2 linked regions of the Homo sapiens genome follow. Changing the gene in region 2 together with the main gene of any one other region gives a genetic interaction. Each region holds a gene or a part of one and is shown on either strand. Other genes may lie near its edges.

Evidence for each region. Genes that interact genetically often act in the same process or in processes that back each other up.
Region 1: changes in ANKZF1 (region 2) and SNRPB together harm fitness less than expected from each alone (positive genetic interaction), as found in Homo sapiens cells (one large-scale study listed by BioGRID).

The regions. Positions count from the first base shown.
Region 1 is NC_000020.11:2,460,992-2,464,475, reverse strand, and holds the end of SNRPB (small nuclear ribonucleoprotein-associated proteins B and B'), read left to right. Parts: intron 1-576; coding exon 577-729; intron 730-1,248; coding exon 1,249-1,387; intron 1,388-1,428; exon of another isoform or gene 1,429-1,524; intron 1,525-1,714; coding exon 1,715-1,840; intron 1,841-2,536; coding exon 2,537-2,547; 3' UTR 2,548-2,682; coding exon of another isoform or gene 2,683-2,720; 3' UTR 2,721-2,834; downstream 2,835-3,484. UniProt on the Homo sapiens protein: Plays a role in pre-mRNA splicing as a core component of the spliceosomal U1, U2, U4 and U5 small nuclear ribonucleoproteins (snRNPs), the building blocks of the spliceosome.
Region 2 is NC_000002.12:219,232,646-219,234,992, forward strand, and holds part of ANKZF1 (tRNA endonuclease ANKZF1), read left to right. Parts: coding exon 1-38; intron 39-433; coding exon 434-546; intron 547-640; coding exon 641-788; intron 789-1,069; coding exon 1,070-1,298; intron 1,299-1,487; coding exon 1,488-1,643; intron 1,644-2,180; coding exon 2,181-2,347. UniProt on the Homo sapiens protein: Endonuclease that cleaves polypeptidyl-tRNAs downstream of the ribosome-associated quality control (RQC) pathway to release incompletely synthesized polypeptides for degradation.

The DNA of each region.
Region 1 (3,484 bases), on a different chromosome or scaffold from region 2:
CCTTTTCCAGTTAAAAATGTCTGCAAGGGATGTTAGCATATCTTGGTTCAAAGTCCATGTACATATTCAAATCTCTTAGTACCTACTTCCAGTAGAATTGGCTGGTCTAACATAACCCATCATAAACCTTTGTGATCACAACCAGTTGTACCATAACCATGTCATTTGCAGATAAGGCAACTCAGCCCGGGATTGTGGGATTATTTGTCCATTGTCACCTAGCGGATTAGAATCAGCTGGGAATGGATCTCATGTCCCTTTAATGCCTTGCCTGCTGAACCCTGAGTGGAACCCTGGCCCTTTGCTCTTGGTTTAACTTTCACAGGAGTGCATATAGGTGGTTGAGTTGTGGCATGTTTCTCTAGACTTACTCTTAAGTTCTACCCTGCTTCAGGGATAACTCATAGTCTTGGATGGAGGAAGAATGGTGTTGGCACACATGGAGAGGTAGTATTTATAAGCTATTTCGATAGTATTTATAAGCTATTTCGAGGGGCTCTCTTGGCAATGATATTCCAAAGTATACTTCTGATCTTCAGATCACTGGGCATCAGAGCATATTTGTTTATTTTTCAGACTGGTATTGCTCGAGTTCCACTTGCTGGAGCTGCCGGGGGCCCAGGGATCGGCAGGGCTGCTGGCAGAGGAATCCCAGCTGGGGTTCCCATGCCCCAGGCTCCTGCAGGACTTGCTGGGCCAGTCCGTGGGGTTGGCGGGCCATCCCAACAGGTGAGGAGTTGGGGAAAGGGTACCACCTCCTGGTGGCTAAAATAAAGGATAAAGGGGAGGGTCCATAGTTTTAAAAGGGTCCAGAGTGACCAACCTGTGATTGTCAGACTATCAGTGTTTCACTGTGGTTTATACATGGCCCTAGAAGCAAGTGAAAAGGATAAGTTGCCATTGTAAATTATGTTGATGCTATTAAAGAGATGTACGAATTAGCCAACTGTATTTAAGGAAAATATTTCCATGACAGCATTTGAAATCATGAGTCATATTTGAAAATGCAGTTGCCTTCTCTCACTTGGATTGGACATGCTTACATTCAGGTCTAGAAGATGGGAGTTGGGCATTCAAGCTTGATCTTTCCCGACATGTGGTTTTGGATGGGAAGTCTGGTGCTGAGAGTTGTAGCATTAAGGGATTTGGTGTCTGTTATTTCCCACTGTCCTTCCCCAAGTTGGGGAGGAGAGTGGGAAGCTGCATTGTACTGTACTCTTCTAACTCTTTCTTCTTATGTCCTCTTAGGTGATGACCCCACAAGGAAGAGGTACTGTTGCAGCCGCTGCAGCTGCTGCCACAGCCAGTATTGCCGGGGCTCCAACCCAGTACCCACCTGGCCGTGGGGGTCCTCCCCCACCTATGGGCCGAGGAGCACCCCCTCCAGGTGAGGAGCCCATAAGGAGACCAGTGCTAATTGATAGAAGATGCCTTAGCTGGATTAATGATGAGATATAACCTTGACTGAAGCTGATGATGAGTTTGTATAATTAAGCAGGATTACTCTGAGATCCAGCGTGGCTGACTGATGAGACTAGGTGGACAAGAGCCATTGGGAGCCCTGGGTGTTAGGCTCAAATGTCAGTTTTCTGGGAGCTGCTGAGAGGGTGGAATGGTCCATCTATCTCAGAACTTGGTGGAAAGCTTTGTAGTTTTTTTGCTACCTTTTCAAGATAGACACTTGAGCTATATTCTTGGGGCTTTTCTCTTGCAGGCATGATGGGCCCACCTCCTGGTATGAGACCTCCTATGGGTCCCCCAATGGGGATCCCCCCTGGAAGAGGGACTCCAATGGGCATGCCCCCTCCGGGAATGCGGCCTCCTCCCCCTGGGATGCGAGGTAAGTGCCTGCAGTGGTGACTTTGGCTTCTTTCCCTAGAGCCTAGTGGGATAGGAAATGGAGGGAAGATTGCATTTAGATCATATCCCATGGGCTTTCAAGCCTTAAATCTAGGGAAATCCAGAAAGGAAAGAGAAGAGGGAACATTTCTTAAATTGGGCTTACCTCCCCTCTTAGAAAAGTTAGAGCAGCCATGCACCCAGGGTGTTTCTCAATATCTAAGGCAGCGGCCTCAGGACACAATGAAATAATGCATTCTGAGGATCCCTAACAGAAGTTATGAGATTGTCTTATGCTCTTTGGTTTGACAGTGCCTAGTAATTAAGAGGGGGCTCTGGGCTTTGCTGTACTATTATGGATTTCTCTTTAACTTCAGTTGGAGAAATTCTGAGATCAGTCCCCACATGGATGAGAAAATAGGCCCCCAGGGAGTTTGGACTCCAAGCCCAGTGTTCTTTCCCTATAAGATAACCCATGGGCAAACTTGGTGACCCCTGTTTCTCTAGTCTGGATTATTCCTCTATGGGTTTTTATAGACATAGGAACCCAGTCAGCCTCAGAGTAGTCCCTAGTTAGCACATATGCCATGTATACCCCTCTCCTCACTCGATTACTGCAGGGCGTGGGAGGCTGGGGCAGGGTTGGGGATTCAAGTTGCAGATCAGGCACTGACTAAACTTCTTACTCTTACTTCAGGCCTTCTTTGACCCTTGGCCACAGAGTATGGAAGTAGCTCCGCAGAGGCGTGGGCTCGATTCCTCAGGGCCACGTTACCACAGACCTGTTTGTTTCTTATGCTGTTGTTCGTGGAGTCTCATGGGATTGTCTGGTTTCCCTTACAGGGCCCCCTCCCCCGGGAATGCGCCCACCAAGGCCCTAGACTCATCTTGGCCCTCCTCAGCTCCCTGCCTGTTTCCCGTAAGGCTGTACATAGTCCTTTTATCTCCTTGTGGCCTATGAAACTGGTTTATAATAAACTCTTAAGAGAACATTATAATTGCACCTATGGATCTTTATTTTTAGAAAAATCTTTGATATATTGGGTGCTTAATAGAGTCAAGAAGGGTTGCCTTGGAAAAAATTAACCCTGATCTTACCTTCTTCCCTATAAAATGTTTTACTACCCATTTGCATCTGTACATCCTCATACACTAAGATACTTACAAAATTGAACATTTTCACTTATCAGATTCAAAGATCAGTTTTGTTGAAATCAGTACCCATAATATCCTCTTGGGAAGGCACTTGTCTAGATAGCTTCTCCATGAAGCAAATGCTAAAAATGAAAATTCTGCTGGGAGAGGAACAATTTTGGCATAACTTTCTGCCAGGGTCACACACGTAACATATAACCTAACGTAACTTTTGAATTGTGGTATCTTCATGAGTTCTTCCACCCAAAGCCTGTGTTCACTGAGCAGCACTCTAGTACTTAGTGCATCAAGCTCTAAGGGTACAAAAATAAGGTGAACACTGTTGTAAAGTTACTGTGTAGGGGGAAGATAATTGTAAATGCAATCAGTGGTACTTACCACATTAATGGAAGAAAAAAGCCATAGGATCTTCTCAACAGATGCAGAAAAAACATTTGAGATGATTTCAACACCCTTTGATGATAAATACACCCAGCAAATTAGGAGTAGA
Region 2 (2,347 bases):
TTCTTTATGCCTACCGCTGTGTCCTAGGCCCTCATCAGGCAAGTGACAGTACAGGTTGCATGGCTAACCCCAGCCTTTTGTACACCCAGCCTAGATTTCCCTTAGCCTAGTGCATTTCTCCCTGCTTCTCTTCCTTCCTGTTGGTTGTGGGTATCACGCTTGACAACATAGTCTTGAATTGAAACTGGCCTGAATTGTGGAAGGGTTAAGTGTAATGGAATTAAGTTTGGAAACAAACCAATTTAGGTTTGAATTGTGATTCTACCACTTCATCTTGACTGCCTCGCCAAGCCTCAAATTTCCTTGTTTGTCAAATGGAAACAAGCCTCAGGGTGGTAATATTAAATGAGATAATGTTTGTGAAAATTGGCCCTTAGTTTCTTGCTCTCAGTGAATGCAACAGATATGTTTCTGATGCTTCTCTGTCATCAAGGATCCCCCAGAAGAGGCAGAACTGCTGCTACAGAACCTGCAAAGTAGAGGTCCCAGAGACTGCGTGGTGCTCATGGCTGCAGCTGGGCACTTTGCTGGTGCTATATTTCAAGGGTGAGAGGGTGCTGCATGGGGGTAAGGATGGAGTGGATCCTGTTAGCCAGGGAGCACCAGCTGGTCTCCAGTACTGAGTCTGTGCTGTCTACAGAAGAGAAGTGGTGACACACAAAACTTTTCACCGCTATACGGTTCGGGCCAAGCGGGGCACAGCCCAGGGGCTTCGGGATGCCCGAGGTGGGCCATCACACTCTGCTGGAGCCAACCTGAGGCGCTACAATGAAGCCACACTATATAAGGTGAGTTAAGCCTTTTAGATCTGGTGGTACTGATCCATACTTTTTTTGCATCTCTGTTCAACTCACTGTTAAGTAGGGAGGTTTTTGACTCATATCCTTCCAATTTTCATTATAGGTAGACAAAGGTAGATGAGGGATTCCCCAGGAGCCTTAGTCCTCTATTCTTTCTCCGTGTTATCCTCTACTTTCCACCCCTTGCACTTCTGTGGGCCATTTTTTTTAGTTGGAGATTTATAAATAGCAAGTGAAGGTATGCAGGACTGAGTTACTCTCTTCTCTAGGATGTTCGTGACCTGCTGGCAGGGCCAAGCTGGGCTAAGGCGCTGGAGGAGGCTGGTACAATACTGTTGCGTGCTCCCCGCTCTGGCCGGTCTTTGTTCTTTGGAGGCAAGGGAGCACCCCTGCAAAGGGGGGATCCCCGACTTTGGGATATCCCCCTCGCCACCCGCAGACCCACCTTCCAAGAGCTACAGCGTGTGCTCCATAAGCTGACCACTTTGCATGTCTATGGTGAGCCTTTGCTCCAGATCCCAATTCCCTAGACCTTCCTGTTCTCTCCAACCTAAGCCTCCATTCTCATTGGTATATCCAGAGGATTTTCTAAGCCTTGGACTGCAGCCCAGCTACATCTGCATTGAGAGAAACCTGCGCTAGCTTCTCCTCAGCTAAGGTTGAGAAAGATCTTTTCTTTTATGGCAGAAGAAGACCCTCGGGAAGCAGTCAGACTGCACTCACCTCAGACACACTGGAAAACAGTAAGAGAGGAGAGAAAGAAGCCTACTGAGGAAGAAATAAGAAAGATCTGCAGGGATGAAAAGGAAGCGCTGGGGCAGAATGAGGAATCTCCCAAACAGGGTTTGATTACTATCTGGCAACTGTCAGATCTGAGTTTCTGTCCTAAAAATGCACTGGCAAATTCCCTACTCTCATAACTGACCCATTTCCTTATTTAAACACACACCCACAGTGTCTATCTTAGCAATTACTGAGACATGTTTAGTGACCTTTCCAAATCTATTATCTCTTTTGTTATGGATGTTTCCCCAGAGCTAAGAAAATCTTTGTGTGGAGCAGATGCGTGGATGTGTTGCATGGATCTCACATAGTTTATCTTTGATTGGATGCTGTGGTTTGAGGCTGAGGGCTGCTTCCATGCTTTCCTCTATTGTGCGGCACCCTAAGGCTACTCATACGGAGAGTCCAGGGACTTGTTCTTGTCTGGGCTGAGAGCCTCATTTCTGCATGTGATATAATGGACTCAGCTCTTGATGTGCTACTTTTATCTGGGTGACAAAATAAAAACAATTTCATTTCAGGCTTTCATTCTTATGCATCTGCTTCTACCCTCTGAGTACTCCCTAGATGGATTTCACATGTCAGGTTTTTCCCTAGGTTCAGGGTCGGAGGGAGAAGATGGCTTTCAGGTAGAGTTGGAGCTAGTGGAGTTGACTGTGGGGACTCTGGATCTTTGTGAGTCTGAAGTATTGCCCAAGCGGAGGAGGAGAAAAAGGAATAAGAAGGAGAAAAGCCGAGACCAGGAGGCTGGGGCACATCGGACT